2 separate regions of the Homo sapiens genome follow, and region 2 is linked to region 1. Evidence: fine-mapped expression QTL. A gene starts in region 1. The other region holds a variant in brackets. All regions are shown on one strand. Distances are between the middles of the regions. Region 1 holds the start of GABRB1 (gamma-aminobutyric acid type A receptor subunit beta1). Region 2 holds the start of GABRA4 (gamma-aminobutyric acid type A receptor subunit alpha4).

Evidence for each region. PIP is the estimated chance that this variant, and not a neighbour inherited with it, causes the effect.
Region 2: its variant is the best candidate, but not a certain one, in a credible set for the expression of GABRB1 in left ventricle (GTEx, PIP 0.58).

The regions. Positions count from the first base shown.
Region 1 is chr4:47,025,133-47,035,246 of GRCh38, forward strand. It overlaps GABRB1 (gamma-aminobutyric acid type A receptor subunit beta1), which reads left to right and starts at 6,435. Exons shown (of 9, transcript NM_000812.4): 1 at 6,435-6,599; 2 at 6,782-6,873; 3 at 7,285-7,352. The coding sequence starts at 6,520.
Region 2 is chr4:46,989,552-46,999,493 of GRCh38, forward strand. It overlaps GABRA4 (gamma-aminobutyric acid type A receptor subunit alpha4), which reads right to left and starts at 4,030. Exons shown (of 9, transcript NM_000809.4): 1 at 3,788-4,030; 2 at 3,277-3,395. The coding sequence starts at 3,873. It also overlaps a transcript of GABRB1 not described here. RefSeq lists a silencer at 3,961-4,255 and an enhancer at 4,417-4,486. The variant A/G (reference allele first, on the strand shown) is at 4,770.

The DNA.
Region 1 (10,114 bases):
ATCCACTCATTGATTGATGCGTATTTGGGTTGGCTCCACATTTTTGGAATTGCAAATTGTGCTTCTATAAACATGCGTGTGCAAGTATCTTTTTCATATACTGATTTATTTTCCTCTGGGTAAATACCCAGTAGTGGGATTACTTGATCAAATGGTAGTTCTATTTTAGTTCTTTTAGGAATCGCCACACTGTTTTCCATAGTGGTTGTACTAGTTTACATTCCCACCAGCAGTGTAGAAGTGTTCCCTTTTCTGCATCCATGCCAATATCTATTATTTTTTGATTATGGCCATTCTTGCAGGAGTAAGGCGGTATTGTATTGTGATTTCGATTTGCATTTCAGGGAGAGGATAGTTTTATAAACTTGAATTTTTTTTCCACAGAAAGTAATTAGATTATTTCTTAATTAATTACTGTCACTATGTCATATTCTCAGTCCAGGTTTTTCTAAATTTTTCTTTAAATCTATCTTAAAATAATTTTAATGACAACAAAATAAAAATGACAGATTAGCAATGTTCTTATCTCAGTTAATTAATGAAGAATATGTATTTAACATGAGGCAGAGTAAAAGAAGTTTTTTTCCCAAACAAATCCCCAGATTTCTTTTGCTAATCTTGTCTTGCTTAGCTATAAATTGGAAACATACCTCTCACCATCTTACTCCATTCCTATCCTCTTCTCATTATCCCCTCTCCTCTCACCACTGCAAACATAATTTTGTTCAATTCTGCCTTTACTACTTCCGTTTTTTTTGTAATGCCATCAACTTTAAAACTCAAAGCCTTTACTTGTGCTTTCCACCTGTTCTAACTCCTCCCAAATTCTCAACTTGGTGAATTTCAAGATCTAGCAGAAAGTTTCAACTCTATTGAGGTGTCTTCCCTGATATTCCAAGGCAAGAAAAAATGTTTTTGCTGGCCGCAATGGCAGCTACTCTGAAGGCCGAGGTGGGAGGATCTCTTGAATTCAGGAAGTTTGAGATCAGCTTAGGCAACATAGTGAGACCTTAGTGTAAAAATAAATAAATAAATAAATAAAAAGTCCTTTTCACGTTTCTAGCATTTTTTATTATATATTGGTGATTTGGGTGCCCTTGCCCCAACAGTTTGTATCACTTATTGTTGCATAGTTCTAAAAATGTTTTTAAATACACTCACGAATAAATGAATTAGCGCAAAGTTTATATGTTCAGCTGGAAAGTGTTCACCAGATAATCACCGGGTTGTTTGTTTTGTTCTCCAGTTAATATCAGGCACTAAATATTTATTTTATAAAAGAAGATAAAAATTATAGTTTCTACTAAACAACAACAGTAAACAGTAAAATCTATTTTACTATAAAATATGTAAAAACACATTAACACAGATATAAATGGCAACACTTTTTAAATGATGCTCTACAAACAATATATTACCGGTAACAGGCTTAATAGTCCTCATTCTCTGTGACTTTTCCTGACCCACAGCATTACAGGGACCAACTAGAGGGCACAACACTGCAAATCAGGATTTGCAGAGTATCCTTCATAAGATTCTACTTGGATAGCATGGTCTTCTGTACTCAAATACAAATTCTTTACGTAATTTGGGCTTCTTCTAAAATATAAATCACTAATAACATATGTTAAACCCTAAATGCATTTAATTATACAGGAGAAGTTGCAAAAGCATTTAATTATCTCAGTAGAGGTTAAAATATATTTTATGCTGGCAACATTTTTCATAATTAATAACGTACTAGAAAAGAATGTAAACTGTCATTAGACTATTTGAATTTGAATTTTGTCTCTCATTTTTTGTTTGACCTTGGATAAGTTACTTTCTGTGTTTAAGTGTCTTCATCTTTAAAACAGAACTAATTATATATCCCTACCTCTTAAGATATTATGAACACTAGATATGTCAAGTGTTTAAAATAGTGCTGATAAATAATAAGCCTATTAAAATGTTAACTATACTTATTAATGCAATGGTAACATTTTAATAAAAGTAATGGCTTAGAACATCTCTTTATTAGTAAGATAGAGCGTACATTTTGAAACAAAATATCATATTTATTTGGCTAGAATTATACCTGAAAGGAGCAATGAATATCCTTATTATCACCACAATTTATCAAACAGTAAAAATATCATAAATAATAATTTGAGAAGACATTCCAAAAAGAATAAACCCAGAAAAAATTGCAATATGAATTTTTAAATATAATATGAAAATTGTTACATAACAGGAAGTAAAAATAAAAAGAGGTAAAAATATACTTGGCTTATTACATGATACAAGTTTTATCCTCAAAGGTCCATGCTATAATATATAAATAAGAAGAGCTGAAAAATGCAAAGTGAAAAATGCATTTTCATATAGCTAAAGTATATTAAATAGCTGGCTATTAATATAACCTGAAACACAAGAATTTTTTTTTAAAGAAAATAATATATCACTAGAGGATAAATTGATATGCAAAAAGTGAAGTGGTGCCATTCCTATTAACACAGGTTAAAATGACTTCTTAAGTTAATTAGAATATTTAATGCAATATAAAAATAACATGAGATTTTTAGATTGTATTAAATTAATGCTATACTTAAGCTAGAAAATAAAGTATGTAAACATAACAAAGGATATGTAAATATCTTGAAAAGCAATAATGGTGTTGCTGCCTTATCAAAATTCATACTTTTCTAACAATGAGTGATTATAATAAAATTATATCATATTAGGTTAAATCAGAAAAACTGATCAATTGAACAGAAGGCAAATGCCACCAATACATGCATCCAATAACATATTATATTACTATTAGTATTACAAATCATCCTTAAAATAAATTGTGGCAATTTATACTGTCCCCAAAGTATATGAAATTGTATTTTTCCACAGCTTCCATGATACTTAAGGTTAAACCATTTTAAACTAGCAAACCAACAAGTGAAAATGGTACTTCATATCTATTTTAAAAATTGTATTCATTTGATTACTACTGAGCTTGAAACTTTACAATATATTTATTGGTCACTTAATTATTTTTTTAAATATTTTCTATTTTTTAAAAAGTTTTGCAGGTACATACTAGGTGTGTATGTTTATGGGGTACATGAGATGTTTTGATATAGATATGTTACGTGAAATAAGCACATCATAAAGAATGAGGTATCCATCCCCTTAAGCACTTATCCTTGAAATTACAAACAATCCAAATACACTGTTTATGTTATTTTAAAATGTACAATTAAGTTACTGACTACAGTCACCCTACTCTGCTATCAAATATTAGAGATTCTTTGGTGAAATGCTTGTTACAATTGTTTGCTCATTATTTATTAGACATTTATTTCTCTCATTGATTGGCATAAACATTTTAAAATATAAATTGCAAATGTATCTCCTAATTGGTCACTTCGTTATCAGTTTTGATCAGCTTTTTGTAAAATATTTCAAATATCTAGAAATATATGGAGAGTAGAATGATGAACACCCACATATCATGTTGTGGCTAATTGGAATGAAATTTTTTTGATAAAATATTGTAGATTCATTTGAACCTTAAAGTGTGGTATCCTTCTTATTTTTGTTCTCTATTCTGTGTATGTGTATATATATACATACACACACAAACACACACCCCGACACATACATATACACCATATATATGTATATGTGTATATATGTGTATATATATGTATATATGGTATATATACATATATATGGTGTATATGTGTATATATGGTATATATACCATATATATATATATGGTGTATATGTACATAATATATCTTTTGGGTTTTACACTTAAATATTTTAAAATTTATGTTATCATGGCTCATTATATCATTCTGCACCTTGCTCTTGTTTCGTTTTTGCTCAGTGTTTTACTTCTGGGATTTGTCAGTGTAGAAGCATGTAGACATTCAACTATTTTGACTGTTGTATTACATTGTGTGATTATATTCCTATTTATTTCCAATTAATAAAAATTGTTGCCAGTTTTGCACTACTAAAAACAACACTGCCATAAATATTCTTAGACTGCATGAGTTTATCACTAGGGTATATTCTGAGTGGTAGCAATTCTGGGCCAAAGAGCATGGGCATCTTTGACTTTACTAGTATGTCCAAAGAGTGGTACAAAGTGTTTAGATCAATTTATATGTCTACTGAAAATATATGGAGTTTTAAAAGCCAATTTTTAATATTCTTAAGTTTTGCATATCTCATGAGTTTAAAATAGTGTACAATTCCTTTAATTTGCAATTCCTTATTTAGAGTGGCTTTTGATCTTTTCTTATTTACTTCTGGAAGTTTTTTTTTCTGGTAATTTCTTTATACAAACCTTCTGATGGTTAAATTTGCTGAAAACATGTTCTTTCTATGTATAACTTGACTTTTCAGAAGAAGCTTTGGATTTAAAGAAGGTTACATTTTAACATAGTTATCGCAATAATCTTTTTTATCATTTATAACTTTGTTCATCTTTAGATCTTTCCTTTTATCACAGTCATAAAGATATTCTCCTATATAGTTTAAAGTTTTGAAAGTTTTGTTTTTTGTATTAAAGTTACGTATCTACCTGTAATATATTTTCATGTATGTAATGATGTAAAGATCTACTTTTTTCCCTTATGGATAATAAATTGTCTTGCAACATTTATTGAGTAGCTCATCTTTTCCTACTTCTCTTAAAATAGAGGAGTATTTCTGTGCTCTCTATTTGCTCGTACTATTTTGCTTTTTATCCCTACATGAATTCCATGCCAAAGACAAACTGATTCAGTTTCTATATAGCACAATAATGTCTTGATATCTCAAAGGCAAATGCCCCCATATTCCTTCTCTTTTTTTCTTCTTCTTCTTCCAGGTTTTCTTGGCTTTTATTTACCCCCTCATTCTTCTATTTGAATTTTGGAATTAGTTTATTCATTTCCATTTAGAATGTAGGAATTTTGATTCAAATTGGTTATATTTCTTACATTGGATAGAATTGACATCCTTACAATGTTGAGTCTTCCCAATTACCCATATGGTACATTTTCCATTTATCTAGGTCATATTTTGTGTATTTAAATAATGTTATGTACCTTCACTCTAAACTTCTTGTGCATATTTTTCCCCCAGTTATTCCTAGGTACATTAGAATTTTTTGTTATTATTGTAATGGAATAAATTTTTCTATTACGTTTTTTTGTTTGGTAACTCCTGTGTAGGGAAATACTAAGAATATGCATAAGTTTCTTGACCTTGAGACACTTCCATCCTAGTTAGAAGCTAATTTTTAAGCTGTCTCCTCTTTCCCTCATAAAAGTAAGCAGCAGACTATAATAGGAGTAGGGATTACAATTCGCTTTACTTACACTTGTGTGTGTCCCTCTCCCATTAGATGTGAATTTCTCTAGGACAAGAACCCTTTTTGAATCAGTTATAAGTCCCAGAATGCCCACAACAAAATTTAATATATACTATTTAACAAAAGAACAAACACCTAGTCCAGGGCCTTCTGCCTAACATGTGCTCAATGACATTTGTAGAATCGAAGTTACTGAATTTGATTTAATTCAAACAATACTTGCTCCTGCAGAATCCCAACCTACTGGCGAACAGAGGTTAAACTGTCTGGATGTTTCAGAGTTCTGCTAGGGGTCACAAATACCACCTTAAATGCTGTCAATTTAAGAAGGAGATTTTTCTTATCACAACCTGGAGGATAAGTGGGGCTTGCAGTGGATGGCCCTAGAAAAAAAGATTGCCTGCCCAGAACTGCTGCTGGATCCTTTGTTTCCCTCATTTCCCAACCTGGATGAAAAACGACAAGGGGAGGGAAGAAAAGTGGGGTGGAAGAAAAGTTGGCTTGCCCCTCCTACTCTGCCTCCTACAGAAGTCTACACCAAGCCAGATGTCCTAGGATGCCTCCCAAGGGCACCTAATTTTTGGAGTTCTCAAATACGTCCTGAGTTTCCTCTGTACCTTTAGTAACTCTCCCGTTCCCTCTCTCTCCACTCTTCCCTGCTCCCAGTCACCCCCACCCACAACCCCCGCTGATCACATCCTCCCGGTGCCCGCCACAGGCAACCAGAGAACAACAGACCCTCCTCCAGAGTCCCCGTTCTAGGACCTCCCTGACTGTCAACGAAAGATGCCAATCACAGGCAGCCTTAGCCAGATCACTGAGCGCCCAGTAAAAAAAACAAAATCAGGTTGAGGGCAGAAATGAAATCAACATAGCAACCTCCAATGCATGAAGGAAACTCCGTTTACACATGCTCGTAGGATCCCCTGCGTGGAAACAGCAGCTTGTCTCTGACTACCCGGAGGACATGGAGCACCCCAAATAGGAACTTTAGAGGGATTGAAATCTGTTGCCTGTTCCACTAGGAATATTGTTTGCAAGGCACAAGGTGTCTTTTGGTAGTGAGCGCGCTCTGCGCATGCGCAGGTCCATTCGGGAATTACTGCCCAGCAGCCGACTAAGTTGCATTCCTTGAATCTTCGCAGAAAAGACAATTCTTTTAATCAGAGTTAGTAATGTGGACAGTACAAAATCGAGAGAGTCTGGGGCTTCTCTCTTTCCCTGTGATGATTACCATGGTCTGTTGTGCACACAGGTGAGCTGCTGTTGTTGAATCTCGCTCTCTCTCTCTCTCTCTCTTTTTTTCTTGGTATGTTTCTTTTTACGTGTCTGCTGGATCATGTATCTTGTTGTTTGGGGGTAGGTGTGCCTGTATCTTTTTATATGTGCTCACAGTTTGTGCTCATTTTGAATACGGTCCCTACTTCTTCCCCTTAGCACCAATGAACCCAGCAACATGTCATACGTGAAAGAGACAGTGGACAGATTGCTCAAAGGATATGACATTCGCTTGCGGCCGGACTTCGGAGGTAACGCTTCATCTTTTTTCAACCTGTAACCCATCCTTAGTTCTCCTTTTCTGTCAAAGATAAATGTCAAAAAAAAAAAAAGAAAAGGCATGTCATTTTCGTAAGCGTGCACTATACCCTGGGCACACACACACACACACACACACACACACACACCCCGGGTCCCCAGTCTCAGGTGGATGAATCCTCAGGCGGAGGCGACCTTCTCCCGGGCCGACACACCCTCTGCATAGTCACTGCATCACGCGTGTGCCCACACCTGTTTTCCCAGGCAGTCCCCTGAAAGGGGTGGTGGGGGGAGCAGGGAGGGAGCCCGTTAAGAATGGAGTAAGGGCTGGGAAGCCCCCAGACCCTCCCCAGCCTGCTGTCACTGAGAGAATCTGTTCCTAATGTGGCCCACCTCCCCGGCAGGGCCCCCCGTCGACGTTGGGATGCGGATCGATGTCGCCAGCATAGACATGGTCTCCGAAGTGAATATGGTGAGTGGCCTCCCGAGGGGCCCGGCGGTTCGGCTTACGCAGATGGGAAATGGACAGGTCCCTTTGCCCTCTGCGTTTCATTGGCGGTCACCTCGCCCCTGGCCCCTGAGGTCCCACTCCGCACCCGCTCCCCGCTCCGGCACACACACCCGGTCGCCCCTGGTTTGTAATTTCGACACACACGGGCTACTGCGGTGTTCCAGGGGAAACGTGCTCGGCACTATTTTGGGAAGGACGAGTGACTGTTGCGCCGTGGATCTGCTGGGGCGGAGTCTGAGCGTTACTTTAGCTGGGTTTCCCTGCGTGTTTGGATGAGGAGGGCACCATCTGCTGGCAGCCGGGCGGCCTGCACTAGGGTCCCCGGACCGGTGGTCGGCAGCCATCACCTCCCCAGGCGCGGTGCTGGCAATCCCCATGGCCCTCGCAGTCCGCGAGCCCGGATGCACCAAGGCCCTGCCACCGAGAGCACAGTCTGGGTTTCAAAGTGTCCTCTCTCTCCAGGTTCAGGCACACCTGGTGGCAGGAGCAACAGGCTAAGACAACAGTCCATGTTTGCTAGTAGGAAAAGTGCCCGAGCCTGGGTAGGCTTGTATTGTTCTCTTGCGGGAGGTTATGAATTTGTCTTACTGCATCTTGCAAATTTAAGTTGAAACAGAATAAATCAAGTCATATTGCTTCACCTTACTCTAGAAACCTAAGCATGCCTAAAAATCCTGATAATTTAAGGGACGTTGGAAGGGAGAGGGGGCGACAGTAACACAGCACAGTCCTTTCATTTCAAAGGGGTCAACATTCTTTTATATATTTCTTCCCTCTCTTTTTGGAAGCTATTGCAAAATGAACTGAAATAGCTGCCACTTTCTCTGTTGGCTGGTTCCGTCCACTGTGTGTAGGAGTTTTCTACTTAGAGTTTCTAACTGTTGCTTCTCGTAAGACGGAAAAGCCTGTTGCTTTTCTAGAATCAACCACCCAGGGAACAGCTAGATCTACGTGAGCAAAATGCCATTTTTATTCCACTTGTGAAAAAATGTTATGGCGGCAGAAATTTATAAATCCTGAATAATTTAAAGAGTAAAACCATTTGAGATTGTATCACTCTATGGCTATAAAGGCTATTGAATTGTCTTTCATTTCATTCCTACTGTGTCGTTTTATTTTAATATACTATGGTTTAAGAATTCTTTTCTTTTCCTTTTTAGGTTATGTTAGGGTCGAAATAAATATGTCTATAGCTTATTGAATAGGAATAGAATAAAAAGTGTGACTATTTAATTTCTGTATTTTGTAGTTGTAGCGGCTCCTGCTTCAAATAACGTATTTAAAATACTATTTGTAAATGTCTCTGATTGTCGTGCTGGAAAAAGAAACTCAATTTTAAAAACGTAATACACAATGAATATTTCTCATTTGGCAAACTGACTTATTATATTCTGTTTACATACATGTTAACACCACAAAGTAACCCAAAACATATTATTTAGAAACACTCTGAGGAATGTAATAATATGTGCCTAATCTACACGAATGCAACTGGACAAATTAGACAATGAATTAGTTTAACAAGTTGTATCATGTAGATTAATAATGTTAATATTTTTCCTTTTCAATCATTTCCTTTGGTATCTTGTAAGCATCCACAGATAATTGATAAAATAGAAGATTTAAAAAGCTCAAAAAGCAAATGCAGCCTTTGTTCTACCTTGCCGTGTAGAGTGTCATGCTTTTCAGAATTTTAAAAAATATATAATTCTGTTGGCTATATTGACATACCCCTTTTCAGTTTTTTTTAAAACTCAATTAAATAGGGAAGTTGCTGCAATCAACAACCACCGTAACAAAAAGTTCTGTATAATTAGTTGTTCAACTGAATTCATACATAAGCTCAGAACAAGGATTGACTTTAATTGAAATACCACTGGACATTTCTTCCTAATGATTAAATAATACAGTCTGTTTACTCACAGCAACACGTGTGTATGCACTTGATTTTTCAAAAGTATTCACCCAGCTGATAAGCCTTTGAAAATACCTGTTCTACTACAATCCCCATTACCTTTCCACAACAATGTTACAGACATGATTAGAAAATAGAAACCACTCAAAGTTGAAAAATAATAAACCTTGATTTACTTGTTCTTTCTTGTTTCTCCTTTTAATGAGCACTATCAACAGAACCCAAAGTTTATTTTATCTTCTGTCATCTATGACAAAACATTGAAATAAATAGATTGGAAATAACTCCAAGAAAAATGGAAATAAAGAGTAATGTTTTTAAAATTGAGGGTTCTGTATAAACACAACTCAGATGGTTAGCCCGCACCCCCAAAAGAGAATTGTTTATTATATGTTGTGATATTTAGCTAATATAAATAGGGTAGGAAGTCCATGGAAAATAAGACTTATTGCTTATTGCTTTTTGTATTAAGCATGTTTCGGTGCCCTGATAGGCAGTAACTTGAGTAATTTAATAGAAAATTTTCATCTACATTAAATGACAAGAATATAACAAAGAGAATGGACAATAATATCATAAAAATAGTTTTTAAGAAAATGCAAGTTGAATCAATTTCCAAAACATTGCTTATATTTATGTTTTTATTTATTACCATTATTACCCATTCCATGGCTGGGAAAATGACATAATTGTGCATTAAATTAGTAGATTTGAGAACTAGGTTCCATTCATTTTTGTTCTTTACCATTGCTTCCCCAAGTAAAATATAATCCCTGATTGGTTTACACATTGTCTGCTTTACAGACTA
Region 2 (9,942 bases), 36 kb before region 1:
AAAAAAGGAAACCATTTCAGTTCCTTTTATTTCCCTATCGCAAGCTGTGCTGCTGAGTTAAAAATATGTAATTTAGTTTCCAAATCTATTTCAACCCCTGCCTGGCCTACTGAGCAATCACAAACCATCCAATTTCAATTCAAATCTTTGCTTTTAGCTTTGTTTGAAATGGAACACAGCAAAGTTGTATAAACAGATATAAAGTAAATGCCCCACGAAGAGCAGAAGCAGGATTATAGGAACCAGGAAGTAAATCCATATTTATAGCCTACTAGTCAAAATCTGGATTGTTTTCATTTTATTTTTAAAATACCAAACTTTCCACAGAGTATCCAATACTATAGAAGGCATCTGATTTGTGGTATCTAAGAGTCTGTGCTAATGATGAAGTTTCTCATTGTTTTCAGTGGTACACATTTACAACTTCATATAAACAGAAAACACATTTTCTGCAGGTGAGAATCACTATTTCTCTGTCACATTTGGAATACTACACATTTACAGAGAATGACCCACTTCTAAAAAGTGAATCACATTTACCACAAACATTTATCAGCAAAGCCAAGAAACAAACAAACAAACAAACAAAACCCATATTATGCTATTTAGTAAATGTTTAAATGGTTAATCAATTGGTAATGCTGGGAGTAATGTTAATTCGACCCTTTCCCATAAAACTATAAAAATGTTTTCAGGTGGGTAATGCAGATCATTTGGCAGTGACAAATTAGATGACTAATAATGTCCTTGAGACGTTTAATAGAATTACGATTAACCAAAACCCAGTAATGGCTCACATATATTGTTTTCACTTATGTTATTGTCAATATTATGCAATGGGAGAGAGTAGATGGTAAAAAGGATCCATATACAATGGATCCCTTCTTCCTTTTGAATTACAGCTTGCATTATAGCCAGCTGGGCACATCTTATTTTAACTTTCAACATTTATAATCAAACAATATAGTTTCAGTTCTAACTTTTCACTTTGATTTATGTTTTGGTATATCAATTTTCTGATGAATATTTAAACTACATAGGACTGGATACTTTTCTTATTTTTTTTCTTCACTTGAAATGTCAAGTTTAAAACATTTATGGGCAGATAAATCCTCTTTTATTGATATAATATTGCCTTAAATGGTATCACATCATCTGAACGATTCTCCACAACACTATTTTTGATCTAAAATGGAAGATCATGCATTGACAAATGATTCACCCCTTTTCAGATTTGCATGAAGGCAAATGCAGTGTAGGCAACCTATCCCTGGAGAGGCAACATGAAAAGAAGCAGGAGAAAGTTTCATCCTTCTCATCTATCCTTATCAGTCAATATACAAATGCTGGCCCGGCGCGGCTCACGCCTATAATCCCAGCACTTTGGGAGGCCAAGAAGGGTGGATCACTTGAGGTCAGGAGTTCGAGACCAGCCTGGCCAACATGGTGAAACCCCATCTCTACCAAAAAATATATTTAAAAAAATTAGCCAGGTGTGGTGGCTTGCACCTGTAATCCCAGCTACTCTGGGGGCTGAGGCAGGAGAATCACTTGAACCTGGGAGCCAGGGGTTGCAGTGAGCCGAGATCACGCCATTGCACTCCAGCCTGAGTGACAGAGCGAGACTCCATCTCAAAGAAAAAAAAAGAAATATACAAATGCTGAATCAATACCCTCAATGACTTCCCATAACCTTCTCATAAAATCCAAGAAAATAATGGTTTGGAATTCAGAAGACCTGATCTCATCCTATCATTGATGTACTATGTGCCCTTATATACATCACTTTCCCTTTCTAAACCTCAGTGTCCCCATCTGTTAAATGAGACCAGATGCCAAAGAAACACCCAACTCTACTTTATCTGCCCATAAAGGTTTTAAACTTGACATTTCAAGTGAAGGCTAGAAAGAGTTTCTAGCCCCAGGCCATACTCCTACTTCACATCACAGGCAGTCCTGCTCCCCATTCTTACTTTCTCCATTCTCCCAACATGTCATCTCCTACACACCCTCAATAGGAGGTATAAAGTTGCTCCATGCTTCTAATATTAGATGATACTCATCACACAGCATCTGATACCATCCCCATCTGCACGGCTTTGTCTTTTAAATACACAGCCTGCTCTGGGTTTACATCCTTCTCCTCCTACTTACTAACTTGGAACTTGGACTCAATTTCCTTATCTGTAAAGTGGGGATGGTAATGGCTTTCAAAGCTTTGTTGTGAGGGTTAAACAGAGTGGTGATGCCTACAAAATGCCTGGTATATGTGAACATTTAATTAAATAAATACAATATTACTGGCTGTTATTATTGTTACCACTTGAATGTAAGCTCCTTTAAGGCAGAATCTCTATCCTGTTCAACTCAGTTGCTGAAGGGTAATTAGTGCAGTGTACTGTAAAAAACAGGGACTTTGAGATCAAAGGACCTGGGCCAAACCTATGAATGGGACCCTAGCAAGTCATTTGTCCTCGTTGAACTGGACTGAGAAGCTGTTTGAGGTTAAGAATTGTATCTTAATATTTCTGTGGACCTAGTACCTAGCGCAAAGCTTGCCACATAGATTTCCATTATATATGCAAAGGAAATATGAATATGAAAAACAGCAACAGTGCTGTTAATGGATGTACCTCTATTAAGTCCTTTATACTTATTTTGTTGAAGAAAGCAAGCTGGAACATCTCTAACTTTAAAGTCTTAGGAGGAAAGCAAATGACACATCACCAAAAAAGAAAGGGAAAAAAGAAAAGCATCCTGCTGTAGAAGAGAAAAGGAAAGGACTGGGTTCTCTAGCAGAGCAGGCAGCTTCATGCCCCAGATTTATGTCCCAGGTAGAACATTGGCCAAGGTTTTGGCATAGGCATGGACACGTGGGAGGATGAGGGACTTCGGTTCAGCTGCCTCCAATGCAACCTGCTCTGAGCGAAGTGGCCAGGTTCAGGGAAACTATTCTCAGCGAAGAGCGTCCAGGCAGCTGAGCCCAGAGTTCCCATTTTTGACTCTTCCTCTCCAACCTCCCCCACCCAGCAGTCAGGTCCCGGGAGGTAATTAGTGTGGGGGAGAGGCAAAGCTTCTGAGGGGGCAGGGAGATGGGAAAGTACGGGTGGAGGCGGTCTTCTTGTCATAGGTCTCACCAAGAGAGGAGAGATAGAAAGAGAGAGAGATTTATTTTTGCACGTGAGGCATACCTAATGATATTCCCACAGACAGACAGACAGGAAGACCAAGAGAGGGACAGACAGGACACACTTGCGCGTTTGAAATCGTTCATACCCCCAAATCCAGGACGCAGCCTGTTGTCATAACCATCGAGCAAACTGTCCAGGATGCGGGTGAAATTTTCTGTGCACAATTTCTCCTCCTTTTGGTTCTGTCCTGGGGATTCGTTTAAACTGCAAGCGAAAAAAAAAAAACCGGGGGCGGAGGAGATTATTTTAAGAATCCATCAGAGAACAGGTGCAAACAGGTTTGTTTTCTAGGGAAAGAGTCGCTTGCCCCAAGCTAAAGGAGAGGAGGTTGGGGGTTGGGATGCAGAAGACAGAAATGGTCAGGAAAAGCGCGCCCCGCCGCAAGACCCCCAGTGCCCACACGCCTCTTGGATCCTGCGCCCTTGGTGCTCTCCGCATCTATGCGGTCACAGAAAAGCCTGGCTTCGGCCCCTGCTCTTACAGCTGAGATAAGAAGACCTAGTCCACCCAGGGAGGAGCGAGTGGCCAAAGGGGTCCCGGAGCTAGCCATTTCTCCACTTTCCGTTGCCCACCTCCTCGCACCCCAGAGAACTCACCAAACCGCCAGGCACAGGAAGCGCAGGAGGGCGAAACTGACCCCGGCGGACAGAGCGATCGCGGGTACCTTCTTGGCAGAAACCATCTTTGCAACATGCCATACTTCAAGCCTGTTCACGTTTCCAGGCTCTTCAGATGCCCTGAGCAGGGTGCGAGGAGAGGGCAGAGAGGCTCCCGCGGCGTGCGCACACTCGCGCTCACACTCGCCCGCGCTCAGCCAGCCCGAGCCGCGGTGGGCGTGTGTGTGCACGGGGCCAGGGGAGGCGGAACCTGCCTTCCTCGCCCCCTCCTTTCTCGCTCAGCGCTCAATGTGTATGTAGAGCTATGTATACCGCTCCACACCCTTTCGTGCCCGCGCGCTGAAGGTTCTGGGGTTCGTATCCGCGCGCTTGCGCTGCAAGACTCGGCAAGTTTGTTCCGACTGTAACTCCGGGGATGAGGAACGGGGTCTCTCGCCCCTCCTCCGGCTTCGCAGCCCCCGACCCCAAGTGGGCTCCCCGCCCACAGCAGTGTTCGTCCTCCTACCTCCTGGCCCCCTCCCTTCCGCTGGGATTTGGATCTAACCAATGAAGCTCCTCTGTCATCAGGTTGTGCGAGGACCTGTTTGTACCCAGAGTCAAGGTTGGAGGTGGAGAAAGGGCGGGTGACGGGGACTGCTGGGCGTCGGGTGGTAGCGGTGGTGAGGAGAGGGGATCAAGTCCGGGCTCAAACCACCTTTGAGACCCTCCCATTCAGGTGTTATGGGGGGCGGTAGGGAGAGCAATGAAAGCAGAAAGATTCTTCCTGGTAACAGGGGTTGCAGCTCACCCGGCGGACTCTCGCCAAACTATTGGGAAGTGGACTCGAGCCGCACTCTAGTCCCAGTATTTGCTAAGCTATTGCTTTAAAGACACCCCATTTCTTTACCCGCCTCCACCAGACACGCGCACACCCTCCGCTTTGCTGCTCCATCCTTTTCTGGAGAGGAGGGGAGAGGTGGAG[A/G]CAAGCGACCTCTGGTCAAAATCACTTTCACTTCTTGCGACACTCTTCTTTTTCAGAATGGAGTTGACTTACTTCCAGAGGTTGACTGCTTTAGGTAGGGGGAAAGGACGGCTGGAGAGAGAGTGGGGGGGGAAAGAGAAAATGTGTGTGTGTGTGTGTGTGTGAGAGAGAGAGAGAGAGAGACAGAGAGAGACAGAGAGAGAGAGAGAGAGAGAGGCAGAAGGTGGGGTATGGAGAGAAAGGATACATAAATTAAAATGGAGGGGGACAAATATTAGTTCCCTTGTGACATGAAAGGGAACACTAAGCTCCATATCTTTACTGTTTTACTGAGCAAAGATAAGCATTCCCAATAGATCTTTGGAAACATTAATTATTGGCTCCAAGGGGGAAAAGCGTCTTTCAAATTAGTAATGATGCATGTGGAAATTTTCATATGATGGATCAATGAGCTAAGTAATTCCCATACCTTGGAACCAAACACCAATTAGGTTCTAGTCGGAACTCTGATGATTTGTTCAAATTGAGATGACTAGTGGACGGGTATGAAGAGGGAACGCATTGTATTAGACAGGGGTTTTGGTTTTTTTGTGTGTTTTAAACGTCTGGATTCAAGTTTTCTTTCTAAGGGAAAGCCCAAAGTGCTCATCGTGGGCAGTAGCTAGAGCTCCGTGCTCTGTATTCTGTACTGCTTTCTTCATGGAATTTGTTAACTTCATCCTAATCCCATCTCTATCATTCTTTTCTCATAGACTGTGGTCTCTCTGAGGGCCTGGGCTAGGTAATTTTTGCTCATCTGTGTTTATTTTATCTGCTGTTACAGTGCATGGCACATAGAATGTCAATAAATATTTATTGAATGAACAATTAAACAAAGCAATGAATTGCTTGTTCTCAGATCCATCTTATAAATGTGGATGACTATCAAGCTCTCTCGTTTGGGAAAAATAGCGGAAGAACTAGTGTATCCTCCAAATATGCCATGAAAGCATTAGTCACCACAGATTCTCCACATATTATATTATTTCTCTAATCTTAATACTTTCCTACCTTTTTAAAAAGAGAATTTAGCTCTGTTGCCCAGGCTGGAGAGCAGTGGTACCATCATAGTGACTGCAGCCTCTACCTTTTGGGCTCAAGCAATCCTTCTACCTCAGCCTTCTAAGTAGTTGGAAGTACAGGTATGTGTCACCATGCTCTGTTAATATATTTTTATATTTTTGTAGAGATGTGGGGGCTCTGCGATGTCACCAGGCTACCCTCAAACTCCTGGTCTCAAGTGATCCTCCTGCCTCTGTCTCCCAAAGTGCTGGTATGACAGATGTAAGCCACCGCCTTACATTTGTAAGCCTTTTCCTATACTTTCTAAAACCTAAATTTGTATTTTCTAAACCACTTTCCCTTGCAATTTTCATTTTAAAAATACACATATCAAAAAATTAAGAAACCAAAATAATGGCTTTGGGGAAACAGTTACATATCGTATCTTTAAAATTCAAACTTAAAATCTGTGAAACTATTATATTCAAATTAAAAGAACATTCTTTCAGAGTAGCTACTTCCAGTTATATTTTTGTTAATTGGGTTATAGTATTTAAGTTCAGCTGAAGATAATACTAAAGGCATTTATATCTCTTCTCATTTTATTTCACAGTCTTTTATTTATGCCACTTTTGTATTACTTCAAGAAGATATATGTTGAATTTCACTGCCTGAAATCTTTAAAAAAATATTGCCTGCTAACTTGAGGTTTTTTTTTTTTTTTTAGAAATCTAACATTCTGAAAAGTTATAATTTACTTTAACTTATGAATATAAATATGCTATTGTTTCCCATGTAAACTCCTATTTGTGATAGCCCAGGATTGTCAGTGAATTATTATTATTGTCTGTGTAGCTGTGCAGAAATAGGAAGGTGTTAAAATCATACCTATACCTCTTTTTTTCTTTAAGTTGATATAAGCCTCTGATTACTAGGTTTAGCAGAATTTGAATTGGGCCCAAGTACACTATCCCCAAATATCATTATATTAAGCCAGTCACATTTTATAAATTTAACAAATGAGTTTACTTTGGATATAATAAGATGCAAATAATACAGATAACCCAACTGCTAACGTCTTAGGATGGACACTTTAAAGCCCACAGTGCCTATGAAATGCCCTGGAAATGAACACAAAATCTTGTGTTTATGTAAGTATGTGCATTTTCCTGTGAGACTTTATCTCTCATCAAGTTCTTATAGGCCATGGACAACTGTAGTATGGACCAACATTTTAATATAAAAGATAACTCAAATATTAGAACATTTGACCAAACAGGCGAATGAATATTTGTAGTTAATGTGTGATAAAAATCTCTATCCCATTTTATAAGCTTCCCCATTGCCAGTTTCTATAGACTGTCATGTAGATTGTAAGTCTCTTGCAGGTACTTGGTCCCATCTATTGTCAATTTATCATATGTCCAAAGAGCTTGGTATGCAAAATATTTGAGTGGTAATAAATTAAATAATCTGAAAGGATTCAACCTGTTCCTCTTTTCTTTCATTAATTCTTTCTGGTAAAAATTGAACCAATTGTAACCATTTGAGGAGGGTACTGATGTGAATTACTGCTTTAAATTCTGAAGGCTTGTAGATATAGGCCCAGTTTGAAATGCTCCTGTTCCAAGAATTTAGAAGCTATTGACAATTTTATGTTAATGTATTTCTCTGTCCCTCGTATTTTGCATAGGTGGGAAGAATTGATTTAATAGTCTCTTAGTTAATGCCTTTTCTCATTTGTATTAAAACAGTGTTTCCACTGAAATATTACCTGTATACCAGCCTACTATCATTGTCTAGTTATAGACTTTTTATCTTCACTCATTTCTTATTGTATGTATTTGAGGTATACAACAAGATGTTTTGATATAAATATATAGCAAAATGACTTTTACAGTCAAATTAACATATCCACCACCTTACATAGTTACCTTTTTGTGTGTGAGGATCGAGTACCTAAAATCTACTCTCTTAGCAAATTACTGTTCAGTGTGCAATGAAATATTATTAACTGTGGCCTCATGTTGTACATTAGATCTTATTATACATAACATATTATTATATAATATATAATAATAATAACTTTCTTATACATAACTATAACTTCGTACGCTTCAAGCTGTATCTCCTAAATTCCCCCCTACCATCCCTCCTTTGGTAACTACCATTCTACTCTCAGTTTCTATGTACTTGACTATTTATAGATTCCACAAATAAGTGAGATCATTTCATATTTATTTTTCTGTGCTATCTGTGTCTGGTCTATTTCACTTACTATATGTCCTCCAGGTTCATCCATGTTGTTGCAAATGGCAGTATCCCTTCTTTTACAAAGCTGTACATATAGATGTGTGTGTATATATATGTATGCACACACGTATATATATACACACACATATATATGCACACATACACATATACACATATACATATAACAGTTTCTTTATTCATTCATCCACTGATGGACACACATAGGTTGTATCCATATCTTGACTATTATGAATAATGCTGCAATAAACATTAGAGCTCAGATATCTCTACAAGATGCTGATTTTATTTCCTTTGGGTGTATGTTCAGAAGAGGGATTGCTAGGTCATCTGATGGTGCTATGTTTAGTTTTTTGAGGAACCTCCATATCGTTTCCACAATAGCTGTACCAGCTTACATTCCCACCAACAGTGTACAAGGGTTTCCTAATCTGGGGGAATTTAACATATTGTATTTGAGTAAACATTTCATAATACCAGTTAATACTGCTGTCAAAATAAGAATTTTTTGCCATATAGTTAATGCAGATTTAGATATTTCAGTGCAATTATTTGAAAAAAACAAAATTGTGACAATACTATTATCTGAATAAACTTTACACATGAAATTTGGAAAGTCACCTATTATAGTATGTATTTTAGATTATTAATTATTTTTTTATAATTTTCTGAGATCAAGTTGGACATTAAGACAATGTATCAATATTTAATAGTCTCCAAGATCTCACATTAATTTGAATTACATTCAGAAATATTAGTTATTCAATATTAGCTTTTGTTTTGTTTGAAAGTCTGAAGTTTTAAAATAGGTGGAGGCCAGCCAGGCATGGTAGCTCACGTGTGTAATCCCAGCACTTTGGGAGGCCGAGGTGGGTGGATCACGAAGGTCAGGAGATGGAGACCACCCTGGCTAACATGCCGAAACCCCGTCTCTACTAAAAATACAAAAAAATTAGCCAGGCGTGGTGGCAGGAGCCTGTAGTCCCAGCTACTCGGGAGGCTGAGGCAGGAGAATGGAGTGAACCCGGGAGGCGGAGCTTGCAGTGAGCTGAGATTGTGCCACTGCACTGCAGCCTGGGCCACTGAGCAAGACTCTGTCTAAAAAAAAAAAAAAAAAAAAAAAGTGGAAAGAATACAATTTAAGGGGATACAATCCAAGTAATACATTTAATAACTACTTTTAGGCTCAATTGAAAATGCCTAATAATGTGTGAAGCATTATTTTATTCATCAGACTTGAATTCTGAAATAAGCTCTCAGAATAAGTTTAGAAGTGCTACTCCAAAGAGCAGTGATTGTGTGTGTGAGATGGTGTGTGTGATCGTGTGTAATTAGTACTCTGTACTAATTACTACAAGAAACATTCCTTTAATTATGTTAGTGTATATGTATGGTATGTGCGAATTTTTAGTTTCTGAAAAAGATGATACTATTGTTAAGAAACACATTTATTTTCAGCACCTAATAGTAATGGTTTGCAAGGATAATTTATGCATTACCGATAGTGCCCCAAATTAACCCATATAGTTTATTTAGAGGGGATACACAAAGATGTAAATACTGGAGGTATGATTCATTTGATGGCCATTTAAACATTGTTAAATTTGTTGCCAAGTGCCTATTTTATGATGAATATAATGTCATGTCTTGTTTCAAGACTGATAAGGGACTAATAGAACCACTTTGGAAAGCAGTTTGCCAATATATTTAAGTTTAACATATTCATACCATATGACCAAACCATCTAATTTAAATTTTATAGCTCCAAGAAACTCTCAAACATGTTCATGAGGAGACATCTAAAATATGTTACGTTGTTTGTAATAGTGGAAACTTAGAAACAAATTAAATGTCATTTAAC